Linked DNA regions of Homo sapiens: regions 1 and 2 are each linked to region 3. Evidence: fine-mapped expression QTL. A gene starts in region 3. Each other region holds a variant in brackets. All regions are shown on one strand. Distances are from middle to middle.

Evidence for each region.
Region 1: its variant is fine-mapped to the expression of ERCC1 in monocytes (BLUEPRINT, PIP 0.95).
Region 2: its variant is fine-mapped to the expression of ERCC1 in atrial appendage (GTEx, PIP 0.96).

What each region holds. Positions count from the first base shown.
Region 1 is chr19:44,547,518-44,554,493 of GRCh38, reverse strand. It overlaps the pseudogene CEACAM22P. Among named protein-coding and RNA genes, the nearest start is that of CEACAM20, 21 kb to the right of the region's middle. The variant GAACGTGTATATA/A (reference allele first, on the strand shown) is at 3,064.
Region 2 is chr19:45,198,645-45,205,620 of GRCh38, reverse strand. It overlaps a transcript of BLOC1S3 not described here. Among named protein-coding and RNA genes, the nearest start is that of BLOC1S3, 23 kb to the right of the region's middle. The variant G/T (reference allele first, on the strand shown) is at 3,314.
Region 3 is chr19:45,420,955-45,427,890 of GRCh38, reverse strand. It overlaps ERCC1 (ERCC excision repair 1, endonuclease non-catalytic subunit), which reads left to right and starts at 3,974. Exons shown (of 10, transcript NM_001983.4): 1 at 3,974-4,110; 2 at 4,510-4,621; 3 at 6,498-6,713. The coding sequence starts at 4,517. RefSeq lists enhancers at 3,246-3,540, 3,789-3,838, 3,899-3,988.

The DNA of each region.
Region 1 (6,976 bases), 870 kb after region 3:
TAAGATTCTTTTAAGACAATTCTAACATCAGTGTAGTGAATTCTTACAATTTTATAGAAACTCAGTATCAATTTTTGAAATGTTATTGTTTTGAGACAGGGTCGCACTCTGTCACCCAGGCTGGAGTGCAGTGGTGCAATCACGGCTCACTGCAGCCTCGAGCTCCTGGGCTCAAGTGAACCTCTCATCTCAGTCCCCCAAGTAGCTGGGACTATAGGCGTATGCCACCACACCCAGCTAATTTTTTGAAATTTTATTTGTAGAGACGGAGGTCTCACTGTGTTGCCCAGGCTGGTCTCAAACTCCTGAGCTCAAGCAATCCTCTTGCCTCAGCCTCCCAAAGTGTTGGGATTACAGATGTGAGCCACTGTGCCTGGCTCAGTATCTATTTTGAATATAAGTTGGACTTTCTCATACCATAAGAAAAGCTTAGTCACCCTTGACACAGTTTCCAGGTCTCCGCCTCCCCCCAGATCCTTAATGTGGCAGATCCAGATACCTGCCTTACACTACCACTTCCTGTTAACCACCTCCTTATGCAACAGCTAGATATAACTCACCTGACTGTCCCCCTGACCCCCAGACCCTGCATAGGCTGTGCAGATATGCCACAGTGATCACCTCCCAGTCAGTGTGACTCCATGCAACTTGTGCCTGCTGGCTCTAAACCCAGTTAGAATTCTCTGTGGAAAACTGCCTGAGCAGTTTCCTTAGACTCCAATAAAAGCATCAGCCCACAGGTCTCTCACTTTCTCTTTCTTGCTCCCCACCCGCTGGTTGAGTGTGCGTGTCCCGACAACTCTCTTCTTCCTGTTGGCTCTGTGAGATGTGCTGCTCTGTCTTCTCCGGAATCTGTGAGTAATAAACTGCCCCTGTTATTTCATGTGTTTTGTTGTGCTGCCTCCTCTGTGTCTCACCTGACTGACACATCCAAACCTAACGTCTTTCCTGGTCAGGGCTGTCCTAAAGCATGGCTCTCTTTGTAGAAATAAACTGGACACAGGTCAGACAAAAGCCTTAAGAATGTCTGCCATTATAAACAAGTGTACTGTGGCCAGGTGTGATGGCTCATGCCTGTGATCCCAGCACTATGGGAGGTTGGGGTGGGAGGATCCCATGAGGCTAGGAGTTCAAGATCAGCCTGGCCAACATGGTGAAACCCCGTCTGTACTTAAAAAAAAAAAAAAATTAGTTGGGTGTAGTGGCATATGTCTGTAATCCCACCTACTCAGGAGGCTGAGGCATGAGAATTGCTTGAACCTGGGAGGTGGAGGTTGCAGTGAGCCAAGACCATACCACTGCGCTCCGACCTGGGTGACAGAGTGAGACTCTGTCTCAAAAACAAACAAACACACAAAAAATAAGTGTACTGTGAGAGGGACACCTGGTCACAGGTCAGACATGTAGGCATTAGGCCGACCACCAAGATAAAGAAGTAACCAGTGAAAATTACACTTTAAACATCTACAACTAAATCCCCTAGAAAACTCAAGACCAAGTTAGAAAACATCAACAACAATCCATGTCATCTCTATTAATTGTCTTTCCTCATTTAATTTCAGGAATGTCTTTCTCATTCAGTCAATTTTTTTTTTTTTTTTGTAGAGATGGGGTCTCACTATGTTGCCCACGCTGGTCTCGAACTTCTGAGCTCAAGCAATTCTCCCACCTCGGCCTCCCAAAGTATTGGGATTACATGTAGGTGTATGACAAGTGATTTTCAACAACACCCTGGACATTTTGGAAATTATGAGACGCTGGATCTCATTTAAATCTTCTGTTATAGCAGGTCTCCTCTGACATCTTGCTGGTGGGGCAAAAAGGGCACCATCTTGTTATAGCCAGTGGGGATGGAGGTCCAGGTTCCCCATTTGGCCTCTGTTGACATTCCAGGTGGGGCGGGGCAACTGTTACTCTGGGCAGTTAGCAGAGTTCAGGCTTTCCACTGAGACATCCTCTGATACCATCTTGCCCAGAAGGGGCAGAGACGCCTCGTTACCGCTCCCTAGTGGCCTCAATGGACACTGCAGGGTCGGTGCTCATTACTGCTGGGCAAGGATGACAGTCCCAGCTGCTTATTCAGCCTGGTGGAGGGGATGGGTGTCTCTGTACAGCTGGCAAGGGTAAATGTCCAGGCTTTTCTGTGGGATATCACAGCAGCAAAGTGATTATCTTGTAAAGATTTGCTGTCTTTAGCAAATCTTGTCAGGCTACTGCTCCTTGTCCTTTGGCTAGAGCAGGCTTTGCTTGAGCCTCTTTTGGATCTACACTCATTGGCATTTCTAGATTGCCAGGCTCTCCAGCTCCCAGTCTGGGATCTGTGAGGCGCAAAGAAAGTCCAGAAAACTCACCACCATGTGCTTTCTCCGGTCTTGAGATCCGCAGCCAGTCTGCCATATTCTCTCCTCCTTTCCGAGTCATCTATTTTTATTTATTTATTTATTTATTTATTTATTTATTTATTTATTCATTCTTTAGCTGCACCTGTGATAGACTGCTTGATATTATTCCCATAGAACAATGATGTTCTGTTCATATTTTTGAGGCTTTTTCTCTATTGCTTTATTTTATTTTATTTATTTTTCCATAGATTATTGGGGTACAGGTCGGTTTGGTTACATGAGTAAGTTCTTTGGGGGTGATTTGTGAGATTTTGGTGCACCCATCACCTGAGCGGTATACACTCCACCCTATTTGTAGTCTTTCATCCCTCACTCCCCTCCCACTCTTCACCCCAAGTCCCCAAAGTCCATTGTATCATTCTTACGCTTTTGTGTCCTCATAGCTTAGCTCCCACATATCAGTGAGAACATATGATGTTTGGTTTTCCATTCCTGAGTTACTTCACTTAGAATAATAGTCTCCAGTCTCATCCAGGTCATTGCAAATGTTGTTAATTCATTCCTTTTTATGACCGAGTAGTATTCCATCATTCATATATATATATATATATATATATATATATATGAACATATATATGAACGTATATATGAACATATATATGAATGTATATATGAACGTATATATGAACGTATATATGAACGTATATATGAACGTATATAT[GAACGTGTATATA/A]TGAACGTATATATGAACGTATATATATGAACGTATATATATGAACGTATATATATGAACGTATATATATGAACGTATATATGAACGTATATATATGAACGTATATATGAACGCGTATATATGAACGTATATATGAACGCGTATATATGAACGCGTATATATGAACGCGTATATATGAACGCGTATATATGAACGTATATATGAACGCGTATATATGAACGCATATATATGAACGCATATATATGAACGCATATATGAACGTATATATAAACGCATATATGAACGTATATATATGAACGTATATATGAACGTATATATATGAACGCATATATGAACGTATATATATGAACGCATATATGAACGTATATATATGAACGCATATATGAACGCATATATGAACGTATATATATGAACGTATATATGAACGTATATATGAACGTATATATGAACATATATATATGAACGTATATATGAACATATATATATATATCACAGTTTCTTTATCCACTTGTTGATTGATGGGTATTTGGGTTGGTGCCACGATTTTGCAATTGTGAATTGTGCTGCTATAAACATGCGTGTGCGAGTATCTTTTTTGTGTAATGACTTCTTTTCCTCTGGGTAGATACCCAGTAGTGGGACTGCTGGATCAAATGGTAGTTCTACTTTTAGTTGTTTAAGGAATCTCCACACTGTTTTTCATAACGGCTGTACTAGTTTACATTCCCACCAGCAGTGTAGAAGTGATAATATCCAAGGTTTTTAACTGTGCTCGGGATGGAATAGGGAAAACTGTGCCTGCTTCATTTTCTGAGATTTTTTAAAAATAGATTTTTCTACATAGTATTTATTTCACAGTGGTTATGAAGTTTGGAGTCACATAGCCCTGAGTTTAAAAATGATTCACCCACTTACAACTTGGTTTTTCACAACTCACTTACCCAACATAAACCTCAGTTTACCTGTTGTAAAATGGGATATTAATAGTCCTTACAGCACAGGGTGGTACCAGTAGTACATGAGATAATGCTTGCAGTGCAAGCAATGGAAGCAATGCAAGCAAGCATCCAGCAGTTTTTTTTCCTTTCTTCCTTTTTTTTTTTTTCATTTTTTTGAGATGGAGTCTCACTCTGTTGTCCATGCTGGAGTGTCGTGGTATGATCTCGGCTCACTGCAACCCCCACCATCCAGGTTCAAGAGATCCTCCCACCTCAGCCTCCCAAGTAGCTGGAATTACAAGTGCGTGCCACCACACCTGGCTAATTTTTGTATTTTTTAGTAGAGACGGGGTTTCACCATGTTGGCCAAGCTGGTCTCAAACTCCTGACCTCAGGTGATCCACCTTCCTCAGCCTCCCAAAGAGCTGGGATTACAGGCCTGAGCCACCACACCCAGCCGGTGATGGATATATTAATTAGCTTGATTGTAGAGATCAACTATCAAAACATCAAGTTGTACACTTTGAACATACAACATTTTTATTTGCTTATTATACCTCAATAAAACTGTTTTTAAAAGTGTAATCATTGGGTCAAAAGTTATATAAACATGTGTAACTTTCAACTTGTATTTCTAAGTTGACTTCAAGAAAGATATTTACTTCCTGTCAGGCCAGCACTTTGGGAGGTCAAGACAGGAGGATCACTTGAGCCCAGGAGTTTGAGACCAGCCTGGGCAGCACAGCAAGACCCCACCCTACAAAAGTTTTTCAAAAGTAGCTGAGGATGGTGACATGCATGGATCTCAGCTACTCAGGAGGCTGAGGCGGGAGGATCGCTTGTGCCTGGGAGGTTGAGACTATGGTGAGCCGTGTTAGTGCCACTGCACTGAAGCCTGGGCAACAGAACAAGACCCTGTCTCAAAAAAGAAAGATATTTACTAATTTGTAATCTAGGTATAAGATTCCTCACTTGAAATCTAAAGTTGGTCTTTAGAGTGCCCCATAACCCCTTGAAATTATATACAAATGTGTAGGTATTTGTGTGGTGTGTGTGTTATTGGGTGTATTTCTGGGGAGAGGATCTGGGATCTCTAGACAGTTAAGAACTTCCGGAAGTAGAGCTGTTGGCTGTGTGTGTGTGTGTGTGTGTGTGTGTGTGTGTGCTTATTGGTCATCTTGGAAACAGCAAAGCCAACGCTGGTGTTTCCAAGGTCCCCAGCCTATTCGTGCTGCTGATCATTCCTAGGGTTCCAGATCCTCCCATGTCCTATAACGCCATTCTTTCTCTTTCCTTCTCCCCAGAGAAGCTGCACCAGCCCCCGGTGGAAGCCCAGAACTTGGCCCCTCTGGAGCACACAGACTCCTTGAATTTGACATGCATTTCTCCAAACAATGACAGGACATTCCAGTGGTTTCTGAACCTTGAGGTGATTCAGGAAGGGGATGGACCAGTAATCTCCAGAGATGGCAGGGTCCTCACCATCCCCACAGTCACACGCAATGACTCCAGCACCTACCACTGTGAGGCCAGGAACCACCTGGGATCCAGGCTCAGTGAAGCCCTCGTGGTTGGCGTGGCTTGTAAGTCTGGGTTTCTTTGCTCTGACTCACCTCTGATCCACACAGAACCTCCAGCCCAACTATCTACTGGTTCATCCATGATTTATAGCTTAGCGTTTAAATCAGAGACTCTACAGACTGCCTTGGTTCAAATCCTAGTGCTTCTGTTTCTTTTATTTATTTATTTATTGAGTCATGGTCTCACTCTGTTGTCCAGGCTGGAGTGCAGTGGCTGGATCATAGCTCACTGCAGCCTTGCCCTTCTGGGCTCAAGCAATCCTCCTGCCTCAGCCACCGGAGTAGCTGGGATCGCAGGCACATGCCTCTATGCCTGGCTAATTTTTACAAGTTTTGGTAGAGACAAAGTCTCACTATGTTGCCCAGCCTAGTCTTGAACTCCTAAGCTCAAGCAATCCTCCTGCCTCAGCCTCCCAAAGTGCTAGAATTACAGGCGTGAGCCTCTGCGCCCAGCCGTCCCTGCTATTTCTTAGCTAGGTGTCCTTGGGCAAGTCACTTCACTTTTCTATGTCCTCAGTTTTCTCATCTGCAAAGTGAGAATCATAATATTATCTATCTCATTGGGTGATTATGAGGATTAAGTGAGTTAGTTCATTTAAGGAACTTAGAATAGTGCCTGGAACATAGCAAGTGCTTCTTTTTTTCTCTTTTTTTCTTTATTCTTTTCCACTACTCTGCACACTAAGTGCTTAATAGACGTTTACAATGACTATTCTCTCAGAAGTTTATCATCATTTATTTATTTAAGGGGCATGTATTGAGCTTCTACTATGTACCCAATTAAGGACTTTCAGACCCATTCAATCTCAGGTACAAAGGTAGATGGAGATTGTAGGAAGCCAAGATCCCAGAAATTCCAGACTCGACAACATAAATATTTGCAGAACTGGAAGGACTTTCAGAGACACCACATTTTACAAACAAGAAAACTGAGATTAAGAAAGGGGAAGGGCTCACCCAAGATCTCACCGTGGTCAAGAAGAAAGATAAGAACTTGAACCCATGTGTTTTTCTCTCTCTGCCCCTCTGTCTCTCTACTTTTGGGAAAGCATCTACTGAGCATCCACTGTGTGCTGTGTGTATTGGGTGTTATTTCTAGTCAAAGCAGTTAACATAACTGACAAGCATATCCCTGTCCTCATGGAGCTGACAGTCTTCAAAGATCAAGGAGGGTAATAGACACAAGAGGGAGGCTACCGCCAGCCATGGTTCGTTTGTTCTTTCCCTCCTTCCTTCCTTCCTTCCTTCCTTCCTTCCTTCCTTCCTTCCTTCCTTCCTCCCTCCCTCCCTCCCTCCCTCCCTTCCTCCCCTCCCTCCCTTCCTTCCTCTGACAAACTTTTACGTTGTGGTGCTGTGTGCCTCCCTCAACATGTCAGGCTTCCA
Region 2 (6,976 bases), 220 kb after region 3:
ATGATCATGCTTGTACATAATGAACTTTTGCATCATCTAGGGTCACAAAGATTTTCTCCTATGTTTCCTTCTAGAAATGTTAAGTTTTGCATTTAGTGATGTGGTCCATTTTGAGTTAACTTTTGTACAGAACGTCTTTCTATTTAAAGTGTATTTTGGCCAGGTGCAGGGCTCACGCCTGTAATCCCTGCACTTTGGGAGGCTGAAGCGGGTAGATCACAAGGTCAGGTGTTTGAGACCAGCCTGGCCAACATAGTGAAACCTCATCTCTACTAAAAATACAAAAAATTAGCCGGGTGTGGTGGTGGGCACCTGTAATCCCAGCTACTTGGGAGGCTGAGGCAGGAGAATTGCTTGAACCCGGGAAGTGGAGGTTGCAGTGAGCTGAGATCATGCCACTGTACTCCAGTCTGGGCGACAGTGCAAGACTCCGTCTCACACACACACACACACAATTTCTTGTGGGCAGCATAGAGTTGGGTCATGCTTTTTCATTTAGTCTGAAATCTCTGTCTTATAATTGGATGTTTACATAATTTAGAGTCAATGCAATTATTAGTATGGTTAGGTATAAATCTATTATTTTCAGCCAGGCATGGCAGCTCACACATGTAATCCTAGCACTTTGGGAGGCCAAGGTGGGGGGATTACGCGAGGTCAGGAGTTTGAGACCAGCCTAGCAAACATGGAGAAACCCTGTCTCTACTAAAAATACAAAAAAATTAACCAGGCATGGTGGTGCATGCCTGTAATCCCAGCTACTCAGGAGGCTGAGGCACGAGAATCACTTGAACCCTGGAGGTGGAGGTTGCAGTGAGCCAAGATCATGCCACTGCACTCTAGCCTTGGTGGCAGAGTGAGATTCCATCTGGGGAAAAAAAAAAAATTCTGAATATCCTGAGACTGCCATGCTATGCAGAAGCTGAAGCTGGGCATGGCAAGAGGCAGCATGGAGAGAGAGATAGATAACTGGTCAGCCGCAGCTGATCTAGCCATCCCAACTGAGATGTCAGACATGTAAGACGCCATCTTGGATTTCCAGCCCAGCTGAGCCTTTGGATGACTCCAGCCCCAGCTGCCATCTGAATGCAACTAGTTGAGAAACTCCACCCAATCATTGGCTCATTTGGCAGGGTGCAGTAGCTCACACCTGTAATCCCAGCATTTTGGGAGGCTGAGGCACATGGATCACCTGAGGTCAGGGGTTCAAGACCAGCCTAGCCAACTTGGTGAAACCCTGTCTCTACTGAAAATACAAAAAAATTAGCTGGGGCATGGTGGTGGGTGCCTGTCATCCCAGCTACTCGGGAGGCTGAGGCAGGAGAATCGCTTGAACCCAGGAGGCGGAGGTTTGCAGTAAACCGAGATCACACCATTGCAGTCCAGCCTGGACAACAAGAGCAAAACTCCATCTCAGAAAAAAAAAAAAAAAAAGGCAAAACAAAAATCAGCCGGGTGTGGTAGCCAGCACCTGTAATCCCAGCTACTCGGGAGGCTGAGGCAGGAGAATTGCTTGAACCGGGGAGGCAGAGATTGCAGTGAGCCAAGATTGCGCCACTGCACTCCAACCTGGGCGACATAGTGAGACTCCATCTCAAAAAAAAAAGAATCGACTGGTTAAACCCACTTAACCTACTGAACCATGAGATGTCATATTTGACTGCTATTTTAAGCCAATGAGCTTTTGGGGTGGTTTGAGATTTTGGGATGGGACTGCTATTTTAAGCCAATGGGCTTTTGGGGTGAGGTGCTACCCCAAAATGCCACCCCTCCCACATCTCCTGGCAGCAGTCAGATGGCAAGGAGAGAGAATCTGTGCATTTGGGGTAGGGAGAGCTCAGTGACTGATTTGAGGCTTTGCATTGGAACTCAGCGCTGTTCTATTACAGTGGAAAGCACCATGGGGCAGAAATCAGACACCACCCATGGAGGGAGCATTTAAATGATCATTAGACAGAGGGAAATCATCTATTCTAGTGGTGAGAACCTGAGTTCTGGCATGCCTAGCCACTGCGGGCCAAAGTGCTCTGGGACCCTAAATCAACTTGAGGCTGGGCGCGGTGGCTCATGCCTGTAATCCCAGCACTTTGGGAAGCTTAGGCAGGCGGATCACGAGGTCAGGAGTTCGAGACCAGCCTCACCAACATGGTGAAACCCCGTCTCTACTAAAAATACAAAAATTAGCTGGGAATGGTGGCGCACGCCTGTAATCCCAGCTACTTAGGAGGCTGAGGCAGGAGAATCGCTTGAACCCAAGAGGCAGAGATTGCAGTGAGCCGAGAGCACGTCATTGCACTCCAGCCCGGACAACAGCAAGACTCCATCTCAAATAAATAAATAAATAAATAAATAAATAAACTTGAAAGGCAGTCAGGCCACAAGGACTGCAATTTCTGGGCAAGTCCTGGTGCCTTGCTGGGCTCAGAACAAGTGGACCTGGAGGGCATGAGGCCCACTGAGACATTGGCTGAGGCAGCCAAGGGAGTGCTTGAGCCCCCGAGCCCCAAACCCCAGGCAGTATAGCTTGCAGTTCCGGGAGAGACTCCTTCCTTCTGCTTGAGAAGAGGAGACGAAAAGTCAAGAGGTCTTTGTTTTGCAACTTGGATACCAGCTCAGCCATAGGAGGATAGGGCACCAGGCGGAGTCCTGAGGCCCCCATTCCAGGCCCTAACTCCTGGATGACATTTTTGGACACACCCTGGACCAGAAGGGAAGCCGCTGCCTTGAAAGGAAGGACCCAGTCCTGGCAGGATTCATTACTTGCTGACTAAAGATCTCTTGGGCCTTGAATAAACATCAGTGGTTGCCAGAGAGTGCTCGCCGCAGGCCTTGGGTGAGACCCAGTGCCGTGCTGATTTCAGGTGTGACCCAGCGCATTCCCAGCTGTGGTGGCCCTGGGGAAAGACTCCTGCTTGAGGAAAGGAGAGGAAAGAGTAAAGGAGACTTTGTCTTGCATCTTGGACACCAGCTTGGCCACAGTAGGGTAGAGCACCCAGCAGCTGCTGGCATCCCCAATTGAGGTCTTGGCTCTTGCACAGCATTTCTGGACCTGCCCTGGGCTAGAGGGGAGCTGTCTTCCCTGAAGGAAAAGACCCAGGCCTGGCAGCACTCACCACAAGCTGACTGAAGAGGGCCTGGGCCTTGAGTGAACATCAGCAGTAGCCAGGCAGTACCTGCCATGGGCCTGGAGCAGTGGTGGCCACAGAGAGAGACTCCTGTGTGAGGAAAAGTGAGGGAAGAGTGGTGTATTAGTCTGTTTTCATGCTGCTGATAAAGACATACCTGAGACTGGGTAATTAATAAAGAAAAAGAG[G/T]CTTAATGAACTCCCAGTTCCACGTGGCTGGGGAGGCCTCACAATCATGGCAGAAGCTGAAAGGCACGTCTTTTTTTTTTTTTTTTTTTTTTTTTTTAGATGGAGTCTCACTCTGTCACCCAGGCTGGAGTGCAGTGGCACAGTCTGGGCTAACTGCAAGCTCTGCCTCCCGGGTTCACGCCATTCTCCTGCCTCAGCCTCCAGAGTAGCTGGGATTACAGGCGCCCAGCTAATTTTTTGTAGTTTTTAGTAGAGACGGGGTTTCACCATGTTAGCCAGGATGGTCTCGATCTCCTGACCTCATGATCCACCCGCCTCGGCCTCCCAAAGTGCTGGGATTACAGGCGTGAGCTGCCATGCCTGGCCAAAAGGCACGTCTTACATGGTGGCAGGCAAGACAGAATGAGAACCAAGCCAAAGGGGTTTCCCCTTATAAAGCCATCAGATCTCATGAGACTTATTCAATACCACAAGAACAGTATGGGGGAAACTGCCCCCATGACTCACTTATCTCCCACTGGGTACCCCCTATAACATAGGGGAATTATGGGAGCTACAAATCAAGATGAGATTTGGGTGGGACACAGCCAAACCATATCAAGTAGGAAAGACTTTTTCTTGTGGCTTGGGTGCCAGCTCAGCCACAGTAGAATAGAGCACCAGGTAGATTCCTAAGGTTTCTGTCTCCAGGCCCTGGCTCCCAGATGGCATTTCTGGACCTGCCCTGGGCCAGGAGAGAACTCACCATCCTGAAGGGAAGGACACAAGCCCGGCAGGCTTCACCACCTGCTGGCCGAAGAGCCCTTGGGCCTTGTGTGAACATTGGTGGAAGCCAGGTAGTGGTTGCCACGGGCCCTGGGTGAGACCTAGTGGTGTGTTGGCTTTGGGTCTGACCCAGTGCAGTCCCAGTGGTGGTGGCCACAAGGGTACTTGTGTCACCCCTCCAGCAGCCCCAGGCAGCTCCGTACAGAGATAGAGAGACTGCGTTTGTTTGGAGAAAGTAAGGGAAGAGAAGAGTTTCTGCCTGGTAATTTAGGGAATTCTCCTGAATCTTAACCAAGACCACTGAGGCAGTACCTCTAAGATTCCTTTTTTTTTTTTTTTTGAGACAGGGTCTTACTCTGTCGCCCAGGCTGGAATGCAGTGCTGCAATCTCCACTCAGTGCAACCTCCACCTCCCATGCGCAAGTGATTCTCCCGCCTCAGCCTCCCAAGTAGCTGGGACTACAGGCGCCCACCCCTACGCCTGGCAAATTTTTGTATTTTTTGGTAGAGACAGGGTTTCACCATGTTGGCCAGGCTGGTCTCAAACTCCCGACCTCAGATGATCCGCCTGCCTAGGCTGCCCAATGTGCTGGGATTACAGGCGTGAGCCACTGCGCCTGGCCAGCACCTCTAAGATGCTGCAAGAATCACAGCATTACTGAGCCTGGGGTGCCCCCTAATGCAGATACAGCTGCAGTGACCAAAAGTTTAGTTCACAACACTCAATTTCCTGGCAAGCCTTCCCAAGAAGGATGGGTTCAAATAAGCTCAGACTACAAAGACTACAATAAACACTGAACTCATCAATGCCCAGCCATTGACGAACATCCACAAGCATTGACACCATCCAGGAAAACATGACCTCACCAAGTGAACTAAACAAGGCTCCAGTGACCAACCCCATTGTGACAGAGCTATGTGACCTTTCAGACGGAGAATTCAAAACAGCTGTTTTGAGGAAGCTCAATGAAATTCAAGATAACACAGAGAAGGGATTCAGAATCCTATCGGATAAATTAACCAAACAGATTGAAATAATTTTTAAAAATTAAGCAGAAAGGGGCTGGGCACGGTGTCTCACACCTGTAATCCCAGCATTTCGGGAGGCCGAGGCAGGTGGATCACGAGGTCATGAGATCAAGACCATCCTGGCTAACACGGTGAAACCCCATCTCTACTAAAAATACAAAAAAATTAGCCAGGCGTGGTGGTAGGCGCCTGTAGTCCCAGCTACTCGGAAGGCTGAGGCAGGAGGATGGCATGAACTCGGGAGGTGGAGCTTGCAGTGAGCGGAGATCGTGTCACTGCACCCCAGCCTGGGCGACACAGCGAGACTCCGTCTCAAAAAAAAAAAAAAAAATTAAGTAGAAAAAATTCAACTGACACACTGAAGAATGCATCAGTCTCTGAACAGTAGAATTGATCAACCTGAAGAATTGGTGAGCTCAAAGACAGGCTATTTGAAAATATGCAGTCAGGCCGGGCACAGTGGCTCATACCTGTAATCCCAGCACTTTGAAAGGCTGAAGTGGTTGGATCACCTGAGGTCAGGAGTTTGAGACTAGTTTGGCCAACATAGTGAAATCCTGTCTCTACTAAAAATAGAAAAATTAGCTGGGCATGGTGGTGCATGCCTGTAATCCCAGCTACTCAGGAGGCTGAGGCTCCAGAATTGATTGAACGCAGGAAGTGGAGGTTGTAGTGAGCCAAGATTGCAGCACCACTGCACTCCAGCCTGGTCGACAAAGTGAGACTCTGTCTCAAAAAGAGAAGAGAAGAGAGGAGAGGAGAGGAGGAGAAGAGAAGAGAAGAAAGAAGAGAAGAGAACAGAAGAGAAGAGAACAGAAGAGAACAGAAGAGAAGAGAAAAGAGATGAGACAGGACAAGACACAGCCAGAGGAGACAAAAGAAAAAATAAAAAAGAATAAAGGCCAGGCGCAGTGGCTCACACCTGTAATCCCAGCACTTTGGGAGGCCGAGGCAAGCGGATCACGAGGTCAGGAGTTTGAGACCATCCTGGCCAACATGGTGAAACCCCATCTCTACCAAAATACAAAAAATTAGCCAGGTGTAGTGGCAGGCACCTGTAATCCCAGCTACTCGGGAGGCTGAGGCAGGGGAATTGCTTGAACCCGGGAGGCGGAGGTTGCAGTGAGCCAAGATCGTGCCACTGTGCTCCAGCCTGGAGACAGAGCAAGACTCCATCTCAAAAAAAAAAAAAAAAAAAAAAAAAGAATAAGGCACACCTACAAGATCTAGAAAATAGCCACAAAAAGGAAAAATCTGAGTTTTATTGGCCGTAAAGAGAAAGTAGAGAGATTGGAATAGAAAGTTTATTAAGTGGGATAATAACAGAGAACTTTCCAAACCTAGAAAAAGATATCAATATTCAAATACGAGAAGGTTATAGAACACTAGGCAGATTTAACCCAAAGACTACCTTCAAGGCATTTAATAATCAAACTCCCAAAGATCAGGGATAAAGAAAGGGTCCTAAAAGCAGCAAGAGAAAAGTAACAAATAACTTACAATGGAGGCCGTGTGCAGTGGTTCACGTCTGTAATCCCCAGCATTTAGGGAGGCTGAGGCGGGTGAATCACTTGAGGCCAGGAGTTACAGACCAGTCTGGGCAACATGGTGAAATCCCGTCTCGACTAAAAATACAAAAAAAATTAGCCAGGCATGAGGCCAGGCGCAGTGGCTCACACCTGTAATCCCAGCTACTCGGGAGGCTGAGGCACGAGAATCGCTTGAACCTGGGAGGTGCAGGTTGCAGTGAGCCGAGATTTCGTCACTGTACTCCAGCCTGGGTGACTGAGTGAGACTCTGTCTCAAAAACAAAAACAAAAACAAACATACAATGGAGCTCCAATACGTCTGGCAGCAGACTTCAGTGGA
Region 3 (6,936 bases):
TCGGGAGCGGGGAATGGGCCGCCTTCTAGGGGGTCCTGCCCCCGCTGGGTTCTGGCGGAGCAGAGAGGCCCCGGCTCCCCAACACTTCCAATCCTCTTGTGGTGCACCATCGCCCCCTTGCAGAAAACGCAGGAGTTGCAGGGTTAAGTCTGGCAATTCCATTCCCCAAGGGGATAACTGAGTCACAAGCCCTTCTACTTGGGATGACCTACTTCTAGAATCGCTGTATGGTCTTGGATACAGAGGCATATTTCATTTTTTCTTTTTTTCGTTTTTTGAGACGGAGTCTCGCTCTGTCGCCCAGGCTAGAGTGCAGTGGTGTAATCTCGGCTCACTGCAACCTCCGCCTCCTGGGTTCAAGCAATTCTCCGTCTCAGCCTCCCGAGTAGCTGGGATTACAGGCGTCCGCCACCACGCCCGGCTAATTTTTTTTTTGTATTTTTTAGTAGAGACAAGGTTTCATCATCTTGGCCAGGCTGGTTTTGAACTCCTGACCTCGTGATCCACCTTCCATCGGCCTCCCAAAGTGCCGAGATTACAGGCGTGAGCCACTGTGCCCGGCCTCCTGGGGGAAAATTATACCTAGTGATGAGACTATTAGACTGATTCTCCTTCCTTCCTACTAGGCGTGAGCCACCTCTCCTGGCCCCTATATCTTCTAACATTGCAAGAAACAATACTAAGAACCTAGGATTCTGGATTTCCTTTTTCTTTCCTTTCTTTTCTTTCGTTTTTTTGTTTGTTTGTTTGTTTTGTTTTGTTTGTTTTTGGTCTCACTCTGTCACCCAGGCTGGAGTGCAGTGGCACAATCGCAGCTCACTGCAGCCTCTGCCTCCTGGGCTCAAGCAATTCTCCCTCCTCAGCCTCCTGAGTATCTGGGACTACAGGTGCACACCAACACACATAGCTTTTTTTTTTTTTTTTTTTTTTTAGATGGAGTTTCGCTTTTGTCGCCCAGGCTGGAGTACAATTGCGTGATCTTGGCTCACTACAACTTCCACCTCCCGGGTTCAAGTGATTCTCCTGCCTCAGCTTTCCAAAGTGCTGGGATTACAGGCATGAGCTACCTTGCCCAGCCAATTTTTGTGTTTTTTTGTAGAGATGGGGTTTTGTCATGTTGCCCTGGCTGGTCTTGAACTCTGGAGCCCAAGCAATCTGCCCACCTTGGCCTCCTAAATTGTTGGGATTATAGGCATGAGCCACCGCACCCAGCCTAGAATTCTGGATTTCAATTGTTAGGGTGAAAAGAAAAAGGCATTTGAGGTAAGCAAGGTTCAGGACAATAAATCTGGGCAATAGATCAAGACCTTGTCTCAAAAAAAATTTTTTTTTTTTTTTTGAGATGGAGTTTCACTCTTGTTGCCCAGGCTGGAGTGCAATGGTGCGATCTCAGCTCACCGCAACCTTTGCCTCCAGGGTTCAAGCAATTCTCCTGCCTCAGCCTCCTGAGTAGCTGGGATTACAGGCATGTGCCACCATGCCCGGCTAATTTTTTTTTTTTTTTTTTTTTTTGAGACAGAGTCTGGCTCTGTCACCCAGGCTGGAGTCCAGTGGCACAATCTCGGCTCACTGCAGCCTCCGCCTCCCAGGTTCAAGCGATTCTTCTGCCTCAGCCTCCTGAGTAGCTGGGACTACAGGTGTGCGCTACCACGCCCAACTAATTTTAGTATTTTTAGTAAAGACGGGGTTTCACCATATTGGCCAGGCTGGTCTTGAACTCCTGACCTCGTGATCCGCCTGTCTCGGCCTCCCAAAGTGCTGGGATTACAGGTGTGAGCCACTGCACCGGGACTCTAATTTTGTATTTTTAATAGAGATAGGATTTCTCCATGTTGGTCAGGCTGGTCTCGAACTCCTGACCTCAGGTGATCCACCCGCCTAGGCCTCCCAAAGTGCTAGGATTACAGACATTAGCCACCATGCCCAGAAAAAAAAAATTAAGTAAAATGGGAAAATGTAGACACAGATAGACACCCATAGATGAAAGACTGATGTGAACAAAGAAACAGAGGGATGTCATGTACATGCAGGCAAGAATAAATAAAAAGATCAATGAACATAACAGAAATGTCAGAAATAGACGTGTGTGTATGGGAATTTGGTATGTGATAAAGGTAGAATTTCAGAACAGTGGAGAAAAGATCTACCTTTGGTCAACTTGAGACAATTGGTTACATCACTCATAAACAACGACCTCGGTGCACTTTCAAAAATAAATCTTGGCCAGGCACCGTGGCTCATGCTTGTAATCCCAGCACTTTGGGAGGCTGAGGTGGGCAGATCACTTGAGGTCAAGAGTTCGAGACCAGCAGGGCCAACATGGTGAAACTCCGTCTCTACTAAAAATACAAAAGTTAGCCTGTAATCCCAGCTACTTGGGAGGCTGAGGCAGGAGAACTGCTTGAATGTGGGTGGCGGAGGTTGCAGTGAGCCTAGATTGCTCCATTGCACTCCAGCCTAGGCAACAAGAGCAAAACTCCATCTCAAAAAATAATAAATAAATAAATAAATCTTACATAGATTAAAGCCAGATGACCTGCTCATTCTAGGTCATTACTGTTTGGGACCGTGTCTGTGTCCCTCACTGAACTGTAAGCTCTGGGAGGACAACACGGGGCTTTTATCTTTTACGTAGATAAAAGAAATGATAGAATATATCATTATAGCCGTGCACTGTAATCCCAGCACTTTGGGAGGTCACAAAGTGACCTCAGGATCAGCTGAGGTCAGGAGTTTGAGACCAGCCTGGCCAACATGGTGAAACCCCGTCTCTACTAAAAATACAAAAAAAAAAAAAAAAAAAAAAAATTAGCCGGGCATGGTGGCACATGCCTGTAATCCCAGCTACTAAGGAGGCAGGAGAATCGCTTGAACCCGGGAGGGGGAGGTGCAGTGAACTGAGATCGCGCCATTGCACTCCAGCCTGGGTAATAAGAGCGAAACTCCGTCTCGAAAAAAAAAAAAAAAAGAAAAAAAAGAATTTATCATTATGACCCTGGGTTATGGCAGGGCTCTTAACACACCAAAAGCAAAAGTCAGAACGGAACAGATTGATAAATAGTTGCGCATAAACACAAATAACTTCTGTGCCAAAAATAACTAAAGTTAAAGCCCAAAGTAGAAACTAGGAGGAAATGTTTGCAATATGGGTAACTAAGGATTAGAATCAGAATCCATAAAGTACCCCTAGAAATTAATAGTAATAAAAAAGCCATACAACCCATTTTAAAAATGGACAAGGAATATGAGCAAGCAATTCACAGAAGACAAAATTTACAAGACCAATACTTTCACAAAAAACATTCCATTTCCTTAGTAATCAGAGAGCTGCAAGTTAGAACAGTGTGATACTATCCTTTCAGGAAGTGACTAATACTAACTCATCAGCCAGGCCCCTGCTCAGATGTCCCTTCCTCCAGGAAGCCCTTCCGGACTCCGGGGCTGAGTCAGGCGCTCCCCCTGACCCCCATCCCACGGCTCTCCCGGGATCTCCCATCCCAGACCTGCCCATTCTGGGTCAGCACTGGGAACGTGTCTGTGTCCCTTACTGAACCGTAAGCTCCGGGAGGACAACACGGGGCTGTCGTTGGTCACTGCTGTGTCACCAGCACGGACTCGCACAGGACCGGGAAGAGAGGAAGCGCGTGGGGGGAATAGGTGTGGAATAAATGAATGAATGAGGAAACTGAAGCCAAGTCAATGTCTGAGTTGGATTCAAACTTAAGTCTCTCCTTACTGAGAGGAGGGACCAAGTTGGATCTCCTGCGATCTGTTCTCCACTGAGCCCTGCCAGGATTCTGGGCACACAGAAGCGCTCAGTAAGGGCTTTGAAACTTAACAGTTTGGGAGCCAGATCCTCAGGCCACATCTCTCTCCTCCCACGACCTCCGCGGTCCTCCAGAACCATAGAGAGTTGTACAGAGATCGCCCTGCTCTATGCTCTACTCTCCTGGGGAGCGGGGCCAGAGAGGCCGGAAGTGCTGCGAGCCCTGGGCCACGCTGGCCGTGCTGGCAGTGGGCCGCCTCGATCCCTCTGCAGTCTTTCCCTTGAGGCTCCAAGACCAGCAGGTGAGGCCTCGCGGCGCTGAAACCGTGAGGCCCGGACCACAGGTGCGGGAGGCGGAGACTGCGGGTGGAGATTGGCGCCGCGGAAGCCAATCATTGCCGAGTCTGAGAGATGGACAAGGCCAGGCGTGGGGAGGGCGTCCAGATGCTAGCCTCGGGGGCCGGACGAACGGAAGGCGGGGGATGGTGGGGACGGAGCCAATAGAATCCGGTGGGGGCGAGGGGCGGAGCGATGGGACTTGTGGACCTGTAAGGGGCGGGGCGAGCCGAAGGTGGAGGTCAAAGGGGCGTGGCGTTACAGAGCCTCTAGCGCTGGGTGTTGGGGACCTGACGCTATGGAGCTCTCGGAGTTTTGTGGGGGACGGCTGTGAGTGGGGGGTTCCTGCTGCGGGATGAGAACGTAGACGCCAGTGGCTCACTCGCTCCTGGCACCTTCCCTTTCAGGCTCCAGATGGACCCTGGGAAGGACAAAGAGGGGGTGCCCCAGCCCTCAGGGCCGCCAGCAAGGAAGAAATTTGTGATACCCCTCGACGAGGATGAGGTCCCTCCTGGAGTGGTAGGACAAGGAGATGCGGGGCCCCTGGGAGGCTGGGGGCTGTTAGGACGAAGAGGATAGGATGGGGCCTGTGGGACCAGGGTGTGGGTTAGTGGATTTGGGGGCCACGGACGACTTGGGGAAACAGTCCTTGGTCCTCCCCAGGTCCCAGTTTCCCCATCTGTGAAATGGATGGGTGGTTCTAAGAGAGGGCTAAGGCAGAGGCCAGACACTGGCATTCAGCAGGTAGCCCCTGATGTGTTTTACGAGGCCAGCACCCTGATTTTTCAAGACATGAATTTATTGCTCGTGTTTAAGAATCGCCAGGTTTTGCAATCTTAAAAAAATCTACACTTTAGACATATTTTGGTAAATGGAAGGACCTGGCAATATTGAAATCTCCTTCCCAAGGGAAAACAATCGACGGGTGATGAGCATTGGCTATGAAGAAAAGGAAAGTGGGCTAAGGATGTAGGGCATGATGGGGGAGAGGACCTTCCTACTCTATTTATTTATTTATTTATTTATTTTTTTGAGACAGAGTCTCGCTCTTTTGCCCAGGCTGGAGTGCACTGGCACCATCTCGGCTCACTGCAACCTCTGCCTCCTGGGTTCAAGCGATTCTCCTGCCTCAGCCTCCCGAGTAACTGGGATTACAGGAGCGCGCCTGGCTAATTTTTGTATTTTTAGTAGAGACGGGTTTCACCATGTTGGTCAGGCTGGTCTCGAACCTCAAGTGATCCGCCCACCTCGGCCTCCCAAAGTGCTGGGATGTACAGGCATGAGCCACCATGCCTGGCCCCTTCCTACTTTAGATAGGAAGGTCAAGGGAGGGCCTCTCTGAGGAGGTGACATCTTGGTAGAGACGTGAAAGAGGTGAGGGAGTGAGCCATGGCGACATCTGGGGTAGAGGGAACAGCCAGTGCCAAAGCCCTGAGGTCAGAGAGAGCCTGCCGTGTTCAAGGGCAGAACGAAGTCTGGTGGGGCTGGAGTAGAGAAAGCAAGGAGAAGTGGTAGAAGGTGTAGTTTCTGAGGCAAGGAGCAGGGACAGATCTAGAGCCTTGTGGGTGATGGTGACAGCTTTGGCTTTCACTCTGAGGCAGGAGCCACCCACCAGCTCTGAGCAGAGGAGGGACATGAGGACTTAGTTAGGGGACAGACTTCCAGGGGGCGAGGGTGTGGGCAAGGAGCTGGTGAGGAAGTGACTTCAGTGGTCCAAGGGTGAAACGCTGGTGGCTGGGACCAGAGTGGAGGCTGAGGAGTGGGGGAGAAGTGGCTGAATTCAGATTTTGAGCTCTCAGCCTTCTGGAAGGGACATTAGGAGGAAGGAGGATGGGCAGCCCTGAAGAGGGGAGAGGGGTCAAGTGCTGTGGCTCACACCTGTAATCCCAGGACTTTGGGAGGCCGAGGCGGGCGGATCACCTGAGGTCAGGAGTTCGAGATCAGCCTGGACAACATGTTGAAACCCTGTCTCTACTAAAAATACAAAAATTAGCCAGCGTGGTGGTACACGCCTGTAGTCCCAGCTATTTGGGAGGCTGAGACAGGAGAATCGCTTGAACCTGGGGGGCGGAGGTTGCAGTGAGCCGAGATCACGCCACTGCACTCCAGCCTGGGTGACAGAGCAAGACTCCATCTCAAAAAAAAAAAAAAAAAATTAGCTGGGCGTGGTGGTGGGCACCTGTAATCCCAGCTACTTGGGAAGCTGAGGCAGAATTGCTTGAACCCGGGAGGTGGAGGTTGCAATGAGCCAAGATAGTGCCACTACACTCCAGTCTGGGTGACAGAGCAAGACTGTCTCAAAAAAAGAAAAAGAAAGGGGAGAGGAACTCACAGGGCCTCAGATGTCCTCTGCTCACCCCAACCAGTCCCCTGCAAACTCCCTTTCTCCCCACAGGCCAAGCCCTTATTCCGATCTACACAGAGCCTTCCCACTGTGGACACCTCGGCCCAGGCGGCCCCTCAGACCTACGCCGAATATGCCATCTCACAGCCTCTGGAAGGGGCTGGGGCCACGTGCCCCACAGGGTCAGAGCCCCTGGCAGGAGAGACGCCCAACCAGGCCCTGAAACCCGGGGCAAAATCCAACAGCATCATTGTGAGCCCTCGGCAGGTGAGGAGGGAGACGGAGAAGTGAGGCCTTGAGGTTTTCAGTGGGAAACGCTGTTCTAGGGATGACTCCAGTGCAAGGAGGTCTGAGTTCCAGCCACTTTGTTCTCCCCATTCATTCATTCATTCATTCATTCATTCGACAGCAGTGTGTGGGTTGAGAGTGCCCCAGCTCTACTTGCTGGGGCTGTGGCTGTATTGGTGTAGCTCTGTTTCCTCACCCCAGG